2 separate regions of the Homo sapiens genome follow, and region 1 is linked to region 2. A link means that fine-mapping ties the variant in region 2 to the expression of a gene that starts in the linked region. Tissue or cell type: hippocampus. Region 2 holds a variant in brackets; the other region holds the start of a gene. All regions are shown on one strand. Distances are between the middles of the regions.

Region 1 (8,100 bases), 990 kb after region 2:
AGGGCAACCTGCACAGGCTTTGCCCGAGAAGGGTTCTCATCCTCCTTGCAAATTCTAAGAGGACACCCACCCATTGGAAGGTGAGCCAGGAGCCTACCCTGGATGCAGAGGAGAGCTGGGGAGTGCCCCTTTCTGGGACCCCTGTCTCCTTCCAGAAAGTACGAGACCCTCCCAGAAGGGGGCTACAGCGGTCAGCACTGCGCCCGCCAAACCTAAAGCTCATCTCAAGATCTTCCCGTGGCTCCGACCGACTCTGCAAATGGAGCTTAATGGGTAGCAGGGGGAAGGAATTGCTCTCAGCCGAAAAACATTAAGCTTTGTCAATTATCCCCCAAACCCGCTGGGTTTATAAATATCCCTTTTTATTTTTAGGGTTTTCCCTCCCGCTCGCCCCCATCCCGAACTCTCTCCACGCCCCGCTTCTTCCCCCACGCACACGGCGGCTGCACCGTCACAGAAAGCAGGTGAACGCGGGGCCACGGGGCGCTCGGGTAGAAATGCCACGTCGCACCACCAAGTCACACCGTCCCTGCCCGTCCCTCTCCGGCCATCCCACTAACTATTGTATTGGGGCCATGCAGCCGCTGGAATAATCAGCGAAGCCACAGGTCTCCCCATCTTGGCAAGTGGAGGTGTGCGCTGCCCTCAGACATCTGTGAACCGCTGTTCAACGCCAACCCCGAAGGCAGAAGGGGAAACCAAGTCACCTCCCAGAAAGACGTTTGATGAGCAGAGATAGATTTGCCTCCAGACTGGTACCAGGTCTGGGGAAACCCAGGCAGAGCCCCAGGCTCTATGCGACCCAAAGAAGAAAAAAATGGGTGCACAGTGATGGCTCCAGGTCTCCCCACCCAGATGCTACCACGAAATCCCTGGCATCCACGAAGCTTCCCCCTGTTCCATGGTGGAAATTGGGGGAAAATGGACTTGTGTCTCCAAGCAGGGTCCATGGACACTGGACGATGCCTGAAATCCCCTGGGAGGCAGGGAAAAAAGGCGCACTGAACGCTCAACCGGGGTATAAGGAGTGATTTTTTTTTCTCTGCTGGCAGCAGGCAGGAACCTGGGGTTTGAATGTCCCCTTCTCTGTCGCCACCTCACGCAGACTTCAGAGGCTCTCAAGGTTTCCTGGAGAGGGGGAAATCGTCCCCGGAGCTGACCTGCCAACCAGTAGCACCCTCCAGCGCCTCAGCCGGGCCACGCCAAAATGACCTGTCACCCATCTCCCGCGGGGAGTGGGGAGCGGGCCAGTCCACCGCCTCTTGGGACGGCATCTCTGGACGGCCACTGACAGTACCAGTCTCTGTCACCCCCTGGGGGGTTAGGGGCAATGTCATCGGCCAGGGTGGCAGAAATAGAAAAGTGCGTGAGCTCACCAGGCAGCCTGGGTCTCCTGCGACGTTTTGTTTGCCTGAGCCCAATTAGAACAACTCTCAGGATGATGGAGTATGGCGGGCGGTGGCCCCCAGGGGGCTGGGAGGCCTAGCCCCCATGCAGAAGTGCACCGTCATGATGAGGGTGTCCCCCGGGCCTGGGGAACAGGGCAGGACCCTGCTTCCCGGAGGGAAATAATGAAGACTCCGCCAGCCTGCCAGCCAGAAAGAGATGCCCCACGGAAGGCTTTGTGGAGGGCAGCGGGGGGGTAGGGGAGGGATGCCCAGGTGGGGACTCAGTCAGGCCCAAGCTGGGGGGCTGTGGGATTTGAGGGCGGGAAGCAGCCGCCCCCAGCCCCAGCTGCCTGCCTTCCACCGCCAAAATATCAGCTGGCAAAGAAAGAAGAGCAGAGGGACAGAAGGCAGGCGCGATTGGCAGGGGGAGGGGGGCACAAAGGAAGGGACCCTGGGAGGGGGAGGGGACTTATGCAAATGGCAGATTCGACCAAGTCCCTGGGCCATTAATAAACGCTCCAGCAGCTGCCGCTGGTATCGCAGGAGCAGAGGAGCGGGATGGCTTCCTTCTCCCGGGCGAAAGGCGGCAGAAAGAGGGAAGAAGGGCGCCCCAGACAAAGAGGCGCCGTCACCCTCTGCACCCCAAGGACAGCAGCGATAGGGGGCCACCCAGAGGAGGCCAGAATCCCAGCAGCCAAAGTCCGGGTGGTGGCGGACGGGAGCCCGGAGCGTGTGGGTCCCTGTCCTTGGGACCCTAGGGGTCTCTTCCTGCCTCCTCCGGCTTCTAGGTATCATCCCTGCTGCTCAGCCGGGACTCCGACACCTCGGACACCCGCTTCACTAGCCGCGGCTGCCGGGATGTGTTTTTAGGGTCTCGGCCAGAGGCAGGAGGACCCCATGCTCAGAAGGGGGCTCCCCTAGATTGTGACGGGGGGGGACAGGGGAATCCCAGCTGAGCCCAGAAGGGGGAGGCAAGGCACCCCCAATGAGGCTCTGGGAGGTTTGTTAATTTGGGGGAATGAGGTCCCAGGAGGTGGCTGGATTTGAGGAAGGGTTGCAGAGGAAGGGGCGTTCTTGGAAGCTGCATATTTAGGGAGACGAGAAGACGATTTGAGACTGGGGAAAGAGGGTCAACCGAAGAAGGAGGTCCCAGATTTGGGGCGGGGGGTGTGGCTGAAAAAAAGATTCCCAGTTTGTGGGAAAGGTTCCCTGATTTGAGGATTCTGGAGAGAAAGCGGCCGAAGGGGAGTTCCCCAATTTGGGAAGGGGGGGAATTGGTGGGAAATGTCCAGGATTTGTAGGGGGAGGTCCGAAGGGGAGGATCTTAATTTTAGGAGAGATTCCCATAAAGAGAGGTGAACTTGGCCGCAACCTGGCCGAACCCTCGCACCCACGGCGCGGGCACTCTAACCTGGGGGGCTCCCCTCAGGGCACGCCCCGCGCCCCCTTTAACCCAGTGCCGACGGCCCCGCCCCCGGTATGACGTCACCTCCCCTCCCCCCGCAGCCCCCGGGGGCTCCCGGGGCGTGCGGAACCCGCGGGGCTGGCGGTTCCAGGGGCGGCTTCCCCACTCTCGGGATCCCCACGGGGCCCCCAGCGCGGAGGGGAGACTGGGGTGCTGGGCGTGCGCGTCTGCCTGCCAGAGCCCCTGGGGCTGGGGGCTGAGGCTCGCCCCTGGGTGGGGAGGCTGGAAGGGGGCGCCGAGGCCGCAGAAGGGTGGGGCAATGCCCGAGTGCCGGAGGGGCGACCTCCCATAAGGCAACGACAGGGCCCGGAGTGTTCCAGGGGAGACGGCGTAGACTAGGGGGTCTCCAGGGGAGGGAGACCCGGAGAGGGAAGGCGGCGGGCGCAGCAGCCCTGGAGCCACCCCGCCTGGAGCCACCCGTCCCGGCTCCTCTCCGCTCCGGGGCGCCCGCATGCCCCCCATCCCCCGGCACAGCGCCCCCTGCCTCCAGGACCCGCCCGGGGACCCGGGCCGGGCGCCGCCGGGGCCGGCACCGGCTCCGCACACACGCGCGCCCCCCTCCGCGCCTCTGCCCCGCCCGCAGCCCGGGGTGGTGCAGCCGGCGGCGCTGGGCAGCTTCCAATGCCGCGCTCTGGGCGCTTCCAGCCCAGCCCCCTCCCACGCCGCGGACGAAGCCCCCCCAGCACCCCCTGCCGAGCGCCCCCAGCGCGGCCCCGGCCCTGTCCCTCGGGGCATTGTCCGGGCGCAGCTACCGGGGCGCAGCGGCTGGGCGTGCAACTGGCTGCAGCCGAGCATCCTCCGAGCACAATGGCCGTGCAGGCTTCCCCGGCACAAAGCCGGCGCGCTGCCCACTCGGCTGCCTCCGAGACCCCCCTTGGAGCGCCTGCATTTTTTTTTCCTCTAATCCATGATTTTATTTTTTTTTTTGGCTTTACCTGGAGGCTGGCTGGGCTGGGCTCCCCCGGCTCTGCCCCGCTTCACATCGTGGCTGTTGCATGGGATCCGAGCGGAGCCCGAGCGCCAGCGGCTCGCGGCGTGCGCGCGCCGGCCGGGCTGCCGGGCGGGCGGCGCGAGGACACTCACTGCGGCTCGCGCTCCCCTAGCTCCCGCTCGCGCGCCCCCCCAGCCGGTGACGTCATCCCTTCCGCCAGCGCCGCCGCCGCCGCCGCCGGGTCGGGGGCAGGGCCGGCCCGTGCGCGTCACTGCGCAGCCGCGCGGCCGCCACGCCCCCCGGCCAATGGGACGGCGCAGCGCGGTCACGTGGCTCCGGGGTGTTTAAAGGGCCGCGGGAGCACGTGGGGCGCGGGGCTTCGCGGGACACGTGGGCGGCTGGGGTGGTGGTGGTGGTGGCGGCTGCGGCGGCGGCGGGAAGGGCCCCTGGGGCTACTGTCCGTGCGGGAGCCCCAGCGTCCTGGGTGCAAAGGGCATGGCACTTTCTGTGCGCTGCCCTAAACTGTGCCACGGCTCCCCAGTACCCTTGGAATAAAATCCCGCCTCCTCTCTGCAGCTCGCCGTTTCACATTAGCGCCCACTACCCTGTCCCCTCCCCCCCACCATGTCAATGATCCAGAAAAACCAGCTGCTCCTTCTTTGCTTTTTCAGAGATGGGGTCTGCCACCTGGGCCTCAGTACAGTGGTATGATCATAGCTCACTGCAGCTTCAAACTCCTGGGCTCAGGTGATCCTCCCGCCTCAGCCTCCTGAGTAGTTGGGCTCGGGTGATCCTCCCGCCTCAGCCAGCTTCTTACAGTTCCTCTAACTTGAGCATCCAAGAACTTCCCCTTCTCATCTTTCCAATTTCTGCTCAAATAAGCAGCGCCTGGGAGAAGCCCTCCCTGACAACAGCTACCAGCCACGCCCCACTCCACTCTATCCCATTATCCCGGTTTGTTGTTGTTGTTGTTGTTTGTTTGGTTTTGAGTCGGAGTCTCACTCTGTCGCCCAGGCTGGAATGCAGTGGCGTGATCGCGGCTCACTGTAACCTCCGCCTCCTGGATTCAAGCTATTCTCCTGTCTCAGCCTCCGGAGTAGCTGGAATTACAGGCGTGCTGTCACCACGCCTGGCTAATTTTTGTATTTTTGTTAGAGACAGTGTTTCACCATGTTGGCCAGGCTGGTCTTGAACTCCTGACCTCAGTGATCCGTCCACCTCGGCCTCCCAAAGTGCTGGGATTACAGGCGTGAGCCACCGCGCCTGGTCCCATTATCCCGTTTTTATTCTAGTTACACTACAGTGTGGCTCCAGAGATCCCTATTGTAGGTTGAACACATGAATGAATGGATGATGGAGCACTTCTTATAGAGTAAGCACTTTACACAGGTCTCACCTAATTACCATCCCCTGCTTCCCTGGAGTCAGGACGAGCCACAGTTGGAACCCAGCTAAAACACTGATTTGCTGTGTGAGGCCCGGAGCCTCACTTTCCCCATCTGTAGAATGGATTTGCCTCTGGATCTCAGCTCTCATCTGTAAAATGGGGCAAGGTAGCCCCTGCTCCTAAGGAGGGTGTGATGATGAATTGCTATAATGTGGCAGCCTGGCTGCCATTGGTGCCTGAAGATGGAATAATAAGAGAAAAGAGGCCGGGCCCGGTGACTCATGCCTGTAATCCCAGCACTTTGGGAAGCCAAGGTGGGCAGATCACTTGTCAGGAGTTCGAGACCAGGCTGGCCGACATGGCGAAACCCCATCTCTACTAAAAATACAAAAATTAGCCGAGCGTGGTGGCAGGTGCCTGTAGTCTCAGCTAGTTGGGAGGCTGAGGCAGGAGAAACTCTTGAACCCGGGAGGCGGAGGTTGCAGTGAACCAATATCACACCACTGCACACTCTAGCCTGGGCGACAGAGTGAGACTCTCAAAAATAAGGAAAAAAAACAGAGCGGAAGTAAATAAAAGGGGGATATTGACAAAGGTAAGGGGGTTGGAGGGCTCACAGCCACCAAGCAAGATTGCACATCAGTCCTTGTGTTTTGATCATGTCGAAAGCATTTATTTCCTCAAGGCACATATTTGGAGAAGGCCTGGTGCCCAACAGAGGAACTCAACTTTAGAATTGGTTTTTTTTTTCCTCCAAAATTGTTGATTCATTCATTCCAGGCCACAGATGCAGATAAACAAAAAGCATTAACCCGGGGAACAAAACGATAAGGCGGAAGTCATAAACAGGAGAAAAGAGAGGAGATAATGAATAATTTAACAAGGAACCTAATTTAAGCTTGGAGTTTCCCAGCGGCCAGTGCAGCAGCCACGTTTGCAGAGCCTACTTTGTTTTTCTTCCTGGTGGGGTGACCCTGATCTGACCGTTTACAATCTGGCCTCAGTTTTCTCATCCAAGCAATGGGAACACGATCCCATCTTGAAGGATCAAATGGGGTGGTCTGTGCACAAATGCTTAGCGTGGTTTCTCACGCACAGTGGGTGCTGAAGCCTTGGAGAATTGGTGGAGACACAGTAAAATGAGATGGCTGATCGTGGAGGGGCTGATCATGGCACGAACCCCAGCCCAGTGACCTGTTTGGGAGGTGACCTCAAACAAGTGGCCGCAACACTGTAAGCCTAGCTGTCCCCATCTAGAAAAGGGGGACAACCACTAGTACCTCTGAGGGATTTTGTGAGCAGTCAAAGAAAACAGATTAAATACATCAAAAACAGAATTAAAATACATTGTAGCAGCTGGGCGCGGTGGCTCATGCCAGTAATCCCAGCACTTTGAGAGGCCAGGGCGGGTGGATCACCTGAGGTCAGGAGTTCGAGACCAGCCTGGCCAACATGGCAAAACCCTGTCTCTGCTAAAAATACAAAAATTAGCCAGGTGTGATGGTGCATGCCTGTAGTCCCAGCTACTCATGAGGCTGAGGCAGGAGAATTGCTTGAACCTGGGAGGCAGAGGTTGCAGTGAGCTGAGATCACACCACTGCACTCCAGCTGGGCAACAGAGTGAGACTCCCTCTCAAACAAAAAATACGTTGGCCAGGTGCGGTGGCTCACGCCTGTAATCCCAGCACTTTGGGAAGCCAAGGCAGGTGGATTGCCTGAGCTCAGGAGTTTGAGACCAGCCTGGCTAACATGGTGAAACCCCATCTCTACTAAAAATACAGAAATTAGCTGGGCGTGGTGGCGCGTGCCTGTAGTCCCAGTTACTCAGAAGGCAGGAGAATCGCTTCTACCCGGGAGGCAGATGTTGTAAGTGAGCTGAGCGCCACTGCACTCCAGCCTGGCAACAGAGTGAGACTTTGTCTCAAAAAAAAAAAAAAATACATTCCAGCATGTGCTTGGGAAACCCATCTGTTCAGGCCATGCATCCGGCCCCGCTCCCAGGTTGTTTGAAGTGCTGTGGACAACAGAAGTAAACAAAACAGTCTTTAAAATCCCTGGAGTTGGCCAGGCACTTTGGCCCAGCACTTTAGGAGGCTGAGGCGGGAGGATGGCTTGAGCCCAGGTATTTGGGACTAGCCTGGGCAACATAGGGAGACCCCGTCTTTACAAAAAGTTTTAGAAGTTAGCTGGGCATGGTGGTACACATCTGTGATCCCAGCTACCTGGGAGGTTGAGGTAGGAGGATCGCTTGGATGTGAGAGTTTGAGGCTGCAGTGAACTCTAAGCACGCCACTGCACTCCAGCCTGGGCAACAGAGCAAAAATTCCTGGAGTCAACAGTGCTGGGAGGAGATAGGAAATATCTTATTTAGAGTAAAAGCTTAAGCTCTTCCCACAGCTCACCAAGCTCTGCATAACCTACCCCCTTCCCCGCCCTCTGTCACCCTCGCTCACTCTGCTCCCGCCACTCGGGCCTCCTTGCTGTGCCTCCAACACACCAGGTAAGGTCCTGCCACAGAGCCTTTGCACTGTCTGTTCCCTCTGACCAGGATGCTGTTCCTCCTGCTTTTCTCAAGGCCAATTGTTCCTCCTTGCTCTTCGAGTCTCTGGGAGACCCTCCCAGACCATCTCACTGAGGTGACCACATGATCATCTTTACTTCAGTATCAGATTATTTATCATGATTTGGAATGATTTTATATTTTGGCCGGTTTGTGTGTTTCCTGCGTGTCTCCCTACTCTAGCTGTGCCTCAGTTTGCCTGTCTGTAAATGGGGATAATAATAATCGTGGTCCCTGCCGGGCGTGGTGGCTCACGCCTATAATCCCAGCACTTTGGGAGGCCGAGGCGGGCGGATCAGGAGGTCAGGAGATCGAGACCATCCTAGCTAACATGGTGAAACCCCATCTCTACTAAAAATACAAAAAATT
Region 2 (8,100 bases):
GGCTCACTGCAACCTCTGCCTCCCGGTTCAAGCGATTTTCTGCCTCAGCCTCCCGAGTAGCTGGGACTACAGGTATGCGCCACCACGCCTGGCTAATTTTTTTTTTTTGCAGTTTTAGTAGAGACGGGGTTTCACTATATTGGCCAGGCTGGTCTTGAACTCCTGACCTCGTGGTCCGCCTGCCTCAGCTCCCAAAGTGCTGGGATTATAGGCGTGAGCCACCATGCCCGGCCTTTTTTTTTTTTTTTTTTTTTTTTTGAGACAGAGTCTCGCGCTGTTGCCCAGGCTGGAATGCAGTAGCATGATCTCGGCTCACTGCAACCTCTGCCTCCCGGTTCAAGCAATTCTCCTGCCTTAGCCTCTTGAGTAGCTGGGATTACAGGCACCCGCCACCACGCCTGGCTAATTTTTATATTTTTAGTAGAGATGGGGTTTCACCATGTTGGCCAGGCTGGTCTCAAACTCCTGACCTCAGGTGATCCGCCCGCCTCAGCCTCCCAAAGTGCTGGGATTACAGGCGTGAACCACTGCACCCAGCCCTGTATTATTACTATTACTGTTGTCATTATTGTTTGATTTGTGAATGGTAGCACATTATTCCCCTTCTGAATGGGAGTTTCTGAATGGAGCAACTGCTGAGTGTTGCATCCTGGAGACACAGCAGTGATCAAGACAGACAGACCCTATCCCCGATCTTAGGGGTTTCTTGGTCATGGTGGGCGGGGTGCAGATATCTGCCAGGCAGCTTGGTGCAGGCTGATCAGGTTTGTGGGTGTGGACTCCCAGGCACTGAGGAGGCCCTGCAGCCGGCCTGAGAGGTGTTCCTGGAAGCCCTGTAAAGACATGCCTGAGGGAGCGTAGGTCTGGGGAGGACCCCCCGGGAGAGAGGGCATGGTGGGTGTTGGTCCTGGGCCCAGCCAGCTGACTGTCACTGCAGGGGAAGAAGTTCCTGGGCGACCTGCAGCCAGACGGAAGGATCATGTGGCAGGAGACCGGGCAGACCTTCAACTCACCCAGCGCCTGGGCCACCCACTGCAAGAAGCTGGTGAACCCTGCCAAGAAGTCGGGCTGTGGCTGGGCCTCTGTCAAGTACAAAGGCCAGAAACTGGACAAGTACAAGGCCACCTGGCTCCGGCTGCACCAGCTGCACACGCCTGCCACGGCTGCTGATGAGGTACGTGCTGCAGCCTCCTCCAGGAAGCCGCCCAGGTCACTGTGGAATGAGGGGTGCCCAGCCTGGCACAGCTCTCTCCGGAGGAGGTATTAGTAATATATACAAACACGGATGGAGCCCTTACCACGTGACATGCCTCCTCCATCCCTCCAGGGCTGGGGCGGAGAGAGGGGACATGGGAGCTTGGGCTTTGAGGGATGAGCAGGAGTTTGTCAGAGCAAGTTGAAGGGAAGAGCTTTCTAGAAGGATGGAATGGCATACGCAAAGTCATGTAGACAAGAAGAAAGACCTGCTGGTGTCATGGGTGGCTGAGGGGGCTGGAAATGATGGCAGGGACCAGAGGGGCACTGGGGGAACTTCAAATGCTATGATAATAGATGTTCCCTGAGTGTTCACCAGCCGGGTGAACTTGACCAAGGACCCTTTGTGTGCCTTAGTTTTTTTCTTTTTTTTTGAGACAGGGTCTCACTCTGTGGCCCAGGCTGGAGTGCAGTGCCCCCATCTTGGCTCACTACAGCCTTCACCTCCTGGGTTCAAGCGATCCTCCCACCTCAGCCTCCCTAGTAGCTGGACTACAGACGCATGCCACCACACCCGGCTAATTTTTGGATTTTTAGAAGAGATGAGGTTTCACCATGTTGCCTAGGCTGGTCTCAAACTCCTGGCCTCCAGCAATCCTCCCACCTGGACTTCCCAAAGTGTTGGGATTGCGGGCGTGAGCTACTGCACTGGCCGTTTTTTTTTTCTTATGTGAAATGGAGATGGTAGGCCAGGCACAGTGGCTCATGCCTGTAATCCCAGCATTTTGGGAGGCTGAAGCAGGCAGGTTCACGAGGTCAAGAGATCCAGACCAGCCTGGCCAACATGGTGAAACCCCGTCTCTACTAAAAAGACAAAAATTAGCCAGGCGTGGTGGTGCACGCCTGTAGTCCCAGCTACTCGGGAGGCTGAGGCAGGAGAATCACTTGAACCTGCAAGGCGGAGGTTGCAGTGAGCTGAGATCACACCACTGCATTCCAGCCTGGCAACAGATTGAGACTCCATTTCAAAACAACAACAACAAAACCCCAAAATGGAGATGGTACCAGTGCCCATGTGTGGAATCTGTAGGGCAGGCAGGAAACTGAGGCAGGAGCAGATGCTGTAGTCTTGTGGCAGAATCTTTTTTTTTTTTCTGTTTTTGCTGTTATCGCCTTCAACTGATTGGATGAGGCCCACCTGTAGTATCAAGAGTAATGTCCTTTCTTCTTTTCGTAGATATGTTTTTTTTTTTTTTCAAGACGGAGTCTTGCTCTGTCGCCCAGGCTGGAGTACAGTGGCACGATCTCAGCTCACTGCAAGCTCTGCCTCCCGGGTTCATGCCATTCTCCTGCCTCAGCCTCCCGAGTAGCTGGGACTACAGGCACCCACCACCACGCCCGGATAATTTTTGTATTTTTAGTAGAGACGGGGTTTCACCGTGTTAGCCAGGATGATCTCGATCTCCTGACCTCGTGATCCACCCACCTCGGCCTCCCAAAGTGCTGGGATTACAAGTGTGAGCCACCGCGCCCAGCTGCCTGTAGATATGTTTTCATAAACTTTTTTTTATGTACGAAGTTTATTGCATGAAGGAGTTAACACTAGTCCATGTTAAAAGCAGACCACAAATGGTTACGTTATACAAGCTGTGAGGTTTTTAAACTTGTGACAAAGGACAGAAAGGAAATTCTACTCATTGCAAGGAAATCCTCACTTAAGCTTCAGTGAGCCACAAGCACTTAAAACCCATGAACCTGCCCGACGCAGTGGCAAAAAAACCCTTGACCCTTCACATGATCCTCCTTAGTCAGTCCAGTGTCTACAAGGAACTGGCAAATGTTCTTGCACTGGTCACTCTGTAGCTGAATTACTTCTCCATATTGTGTTTTTTTTTGTTTTTTTTTTTTGAGACAGACTCTCGCTGTGTCTCCCAGGCTGGAATGCAATGCCACGATCTCTGCTCATTGCAACCTCTGCCTCCCGGGTTCAAATGATTCTCCTGCCTCAGTCTCGCGAGTAGCTGGGATTACAGGCGCCCACCACCACACCCGGCTAATTTTTATATTTTTAGTAGAGACGGGGTTTCACCACGTTGGCCAGGCTGGTCTCGAACTCCTGACATCAGGTGATCCGCCCGCCTCCGCCTCCCAAAATGCTGGGATTACAGGCGTGAGCCACCAAGCCCAGCTGACTTATCCATATTCTGGATGCTCAATTACAGTATCATTGCAGGCAGGCAAATTGCAAATTTCTTTTTTTTTTTTTTTTTTTTTTTTGAGACGGAGTCTCGCTCTGTCGCCCAGGCTGGAGCTCAGTGGCACAATCTAGGCTCACTGCAACCTCTGCCTCCCAGGTTCAAGCGATTCTCCTGCCTGAGCCTCTTGAGTAGCTGGGATTACAGGCACACACCACCACACCCGGCTAATTTTTGTATTTTTAGTAGAAATGGGGTTTCACCATGTTGGTCCGGCTGTTCTCAAACTCCTGACCTCGTGATCCACCCCCATCGGCCTCCCAAAGTGCTGAGATTATAGGCGTGAGCCATCGCGCCCGGCCTAAATTTCTTCTTAAACACCTTCACTAGTTTCTTTTTATCGTAATCATCACTGATCTCTTGCAGGACAGCAGTAAGCGTTTTCCTGCCATTTTTCTGTTGAATTCTTTTTTTTTTTTGAGATGGAGTCTCACTGTGTCGCCCAGGCTGGAATGCAGTGGTGCAATCTTGGCTCACTGCAAACTCTGCCTCCCGGATTCAAGCCATTCTCCTACCTCAGCCTCCAAGTAGCTGGAATTATAGGCGCCCACCACCAGGCCTGGCTAATTTTTTTATTTTTAGTGGAGACGGGGTTTCACCATTTTGGCCAGGCTGGTCTTGAACTCCTGACCTCGTGATCTACCTGCCTCAGCCTCCCAAAGTGCTGGGATTATAGGCGTGAGCCACCATGCCCGGCCTCTGTTGAATTCTTA[T/C]ATGGATACAGTCCTCAGTGCCAGCAGGAAGCAGGTCATCACTGTTACTTGCATCAGCAGAGGGGTTGAAAGAGTGGAGGTTCTGGATAGTGGACAAAAGATATAATTCTGTTTTTGAGATGGAGTCTCGCTCTGTTGTCCAGGCTGGAGTGCAGTGCTGTGATCTTGGCTCACTGCAACCTCCCGTTCCCGGGTTCACGCAATTCTTCTGCGTCAGCCTCCAGAGTAGCTGGGACTACAAGGGCGCGCCACCAAGCTCAGCTGATTTTTGTATTTTTGCATGTTTATTAGAGATGCGGTTTCACCATGTTGGTCAGGCTGGTCTCGAACTCCTGACCTCAAGTGATCCACTCGCTTCGGTATCCCAAAGTGCAGGGATTACAGGCATGAGCCACCGCAGCCAGTCACGATTCCTTTGCCTTGGTGGGAACTGCCTGTGGAAAGCAGTGGTGGCGGGAGAAGGCGAGTGGGAGGGATGGAGCGTCAGGAAGTGAGGGTGCTCAACGGGAGGCTGCCGAGTCCTCAGTGGCTCAGTGAGTGGGTCTATTTTTTTTTTTTGAGATGGAGTGTCGCTCTTGTTGCCCAGGCTGGAGCGCAATGGCGTGATCTTGGCTCACTGCAACCTCCGCCTCTTGGGTTCAGGCGATTCTCCTGCCTCAGCCTCCTGAGTAGCTGGGACTACAGATGCCCACTACCATGCCCAGTTAATTTTTGTATTTTTAGTAGAGATGGGGTTTCACCATGTTGGCCAGGCTAGTCTTGAACTCCTGACCTCAGGTGATCCGCCCACCTCTGCCTCCCAAAGTGCTGGGATTGCAGGCGTGAGCCAGCCATGGAGCCTGGTCAAGAGCAATGTCCTTTCTGAAAGTCACCTTACTGTAGATATGAATCACATGTAACAAATGCCATCGCAGTAATGCCTAGATCAGTGTTCCATTAAATTACCAGGCACTCTTGCCTAGCTAAGATGACACAGGAAACCATTCTTTCAGTATGTATTCAGTTAGTGGCCAACTGTGTGCAAGGCCTGTTTTAGGCACTGAATATAAAGCAGAGGGCAAAAAAAGTCAAAAATCCCTGCCTTTGGGTGGGAGTTGTGGGGGAAGAAGGTGGTTGGGGGGGCTTCACTGAGAAGGTGACATTTGAACGGAGAACTGAAGGTGGGGAGGGAGGGAGGGTGCCATGAGGACTTCTGAGAAACAGCCTCTGCAAAGGCCCTGGGGCACGACCGTGCCTGGTGTGTTGGAGGAACAGCGAGGAGCCTGTGTGGCTGGAGCCGAGTGAGTAAGGGAGAGAGAAGGAGGTGGGGAGGATGGGAAGGGGACAGGGCAGGTCATGCAGGGCTCTGTAGGTTATGGGGAGAACTTGGGCTTTGACCGGGAGGAAGGTGGGAGCCATGGAGTGTTGCAGGCAGAGGAAGGACAGGATCTGACTGAGGTGCTCACAGGCGTTCTCTGGTGGCTGCTGTGGGGACTAGACTGTCGGGGGTTAGGGTGGGATCCAGGGACCAGGGCAGAGGTGAGTGAGCTGGTCCAGGTGAGGGATGATGGAGTGGCCCAGGCCGACCATGGAGCAGGGAAGAAGTGGGCAGGTTCCAGGTATTTTTGGAAGTGTATCCGCCAGATTTGCTGATAGATCAGATGCTGGAGTCCTGAGCAAGTGGGTGGATCGAGCTGCCAAAATTGGGGGATGTGGGAAGGGCAGATCTGGGGGTTCAGTGGGGCCCAGCATGGCTGTGTTGAGTGTGACCCTGTGAGTCCCCCACATGGAGACATAGAGAGGCAGCTGGGCCCTGAGTCTGGAGCCGGGCGAGGCTTGGGCTGGAGACAGGACTGTGGGCAGTGTCAGGTGTAGACAGGATTTGGAGCCCTGAGAGGGGATGAGGCCACCTGGGAGGGGTGTGGAGGGAGGAGGCCTGAAAACCCAGCCTGGGGCCAGCAACAGCGAGAGGGGAGGTGAGAGGGAGCCAGGCGAGCGTGGGATCCGGGGGTTGTGTGAGGACCGTGTCCTGGTAGGTAGGAGGCTGTGCTGGGTCAGATGCTGCCGAGAAGGTGACGAGGACAGAAAGTGAGATGTGACCCAGAGAGGTCACCTCCACAAGGGCAGTTTAGGACAGAACTGGAGGAGAGGTTATTTTTAATTTGTATTTTTGTAGACAGAGTCTCGCTCCGTCACCCAGGCTGTAGTACAATGGTGTGATCTCAGTTCACTGCAGTCTCCGCCTCCCGGGTTCAAGTGATCCTCCTGCCTCAGCCTCCTGAGTAGCTGGGATTGCAGGTGTTCGCCACCATGCCTGGCTAATTTTTGTATTTTTAGTAGAGATGGGGTTTCACCATGTTGGCCAGGCTGGTCTCGAACTCCTGACCTCAAGTGGTCCACCGCCTCAGCCTCCCAAAGTGCTGGGATTGCAGGCGTGGGCCACTGTGCCCGACTGGGAGGAAAGGTTACTGAAAGACGTGAAAGCCACCTATGTATGGTGCTGGCTCGCTCAATGAACGGAGCATCTAGGTGTATGCTAAATGCTTTGTGCGTATGATTTCATTTCACCCTGATGCCATCCCCGTGGAGTTGGAGGTCATTGTGCCCTTTTACAGATAAGAATAGACTTGGCGGCCGGGCACGGTGGCTCACGCCTTTAATCCCAGCACTTTGGGTGGCCGAGATGGGCAAATCACAAGGTCAGACGATCGAGACCATCCTGGCTAACACGGTGAAACCCCATCTCTACTAAAAATACAAAAAATTAGCTGGGCGTGGTGGCACATGCCTATAATCCCAGCTACTCGGGAGGCTGAGGCAGGAAAATCACTTGAACCCGGGAGGTGGAGGTTGTAGTGAGCCGAGATCATGCCACTGCACTCCAGCCTCGGCGACAGAGTGAGACTCTGTCTCAAAAAAAAAAAAAAAAAAAGAATAGAGTTGGCTGGGCACGGTGGCTCACACCTGTAATGCCAACACTTTGGGAGGCTGAGGCAGGTGGGTCACTTGAGGTCAGGAGTTTGAGACCAGCCTGGCCAACATGGCAAAACCTCATCTATACTAAAAAGACAAAAATTAGCCAGGCATGGTGGTGGGCAACTGTACTCCCAGCTACTCAGGAGGCTGAGGCAAGAGAATGGCTTGAACCCGGAAGGCAGAGGTTGCAGTGAGCCAAGATCGTGCCACTGCGCTCCAGCCTGGGTGACAGAGTGAGACCGTGTCTCAAAGAAAAAAAAAAAGATAAAAGAATAGATAGAGTTCAGAGAGTTTAAACCCATTTATGCCTGAGGTTGCAATTCTTTGAATTTTTGCAATCAGACCTTGGCGATGACTTTGAGCAGTAGGATATAAATAGCTCCCATATGCTTAGCGTTCCAATAATGGAACCCTAGGCATAAATGGCAATGGTGCTCACCAAAGGTTGCGCAGGGCTTGTATTATAAAATGCGAGGTGAGCCGGGTGCGGTGGCTTACGCCTGTAATCCCAGCACTTTGGGAGGCCGAGGTGGGTGGATCACCTGAGGTCGGGAGTTTGAGACCAGCCTGACCAACATGGAGAAATCCCGTCTCTACTAAGAATACAAAATTAGCTGGATGTGGTGGTGCATGCCTGTAACCCCAGCTACTCAGGAGGCTGAGGCAGGAGAGTCACTTGAACCCAGGAGGCAGAAGTTGCAGTGAGCCGAAATCACACCACTGCACTCCAGACTGGGCGACAGAGAGAGACTCCGTCTCAAAAATAAATAAATAAAAAATAAATTACAAATAAATAAAAAAAAATGTGAGGTCTTAGCTTAAGGCCTTCTCTGCTCCCTCCCTCCCTCTAGTGGTCATGTGGGGCAATGGCACTTACGGCTTAGGCCAAAGGGCTGGGGTGGGATTTAGCAGGGAGCGGGGGGGCACCCAGCTGAGGGTCCCACCGCTGTCCCTGACCCCTAACCCCTGCAGAGCCCAGCCAG

The links. PIP is the estimated chance that this variant, and not a neighbour inherited with it, causes the effect.
Region 1: it holds the start of PTPRS, and the variant in region 2 is fine-mapped to the expression of PTPRS in hippocampus (GTEx, PIP 0.97).

Annotation. Positions count from the first base shown.
Region 1 is chr19:5,336,876-5,344,975 of GRCh38, forward strand. PTPRS (protein tyrosine phosphatase receptor type S) reads right to left here and starts at 3,937. Exons shown (of 38, transcript NM_002850.4): 1 at 3,789-3,937. It overlaps LOC105372252 (a long non-coding RNA gene), which reads left to right. Exons shown (of 5, transcript XR_936279.3): 3 at 1-80; 4 at 373-464; 5 at 582-1,191. RefSeq lists an enhancer at 1,325-1,998 and a silencer at 3,865-4,144.
Region 2 is chr19:4,344,808-4,352,907 of GRCh38, forward strand. It overlaps MPND (MPN domain containing), which reads left to right. Exons shown (of 13, transcript NM_001300862.2): 3 at 938-1,174; 4 at 8,090-8,100. It also overlaps the pseudogene EIF1P6. Among named protein-coding and RNA genes, the nearest start is that of MPND, 5.3 kb to the left of the region's middle. RefSeq lists an enhancer at 5,501-6,002. The variant T/C (reference allele first, on the strand shown) is at 4,163.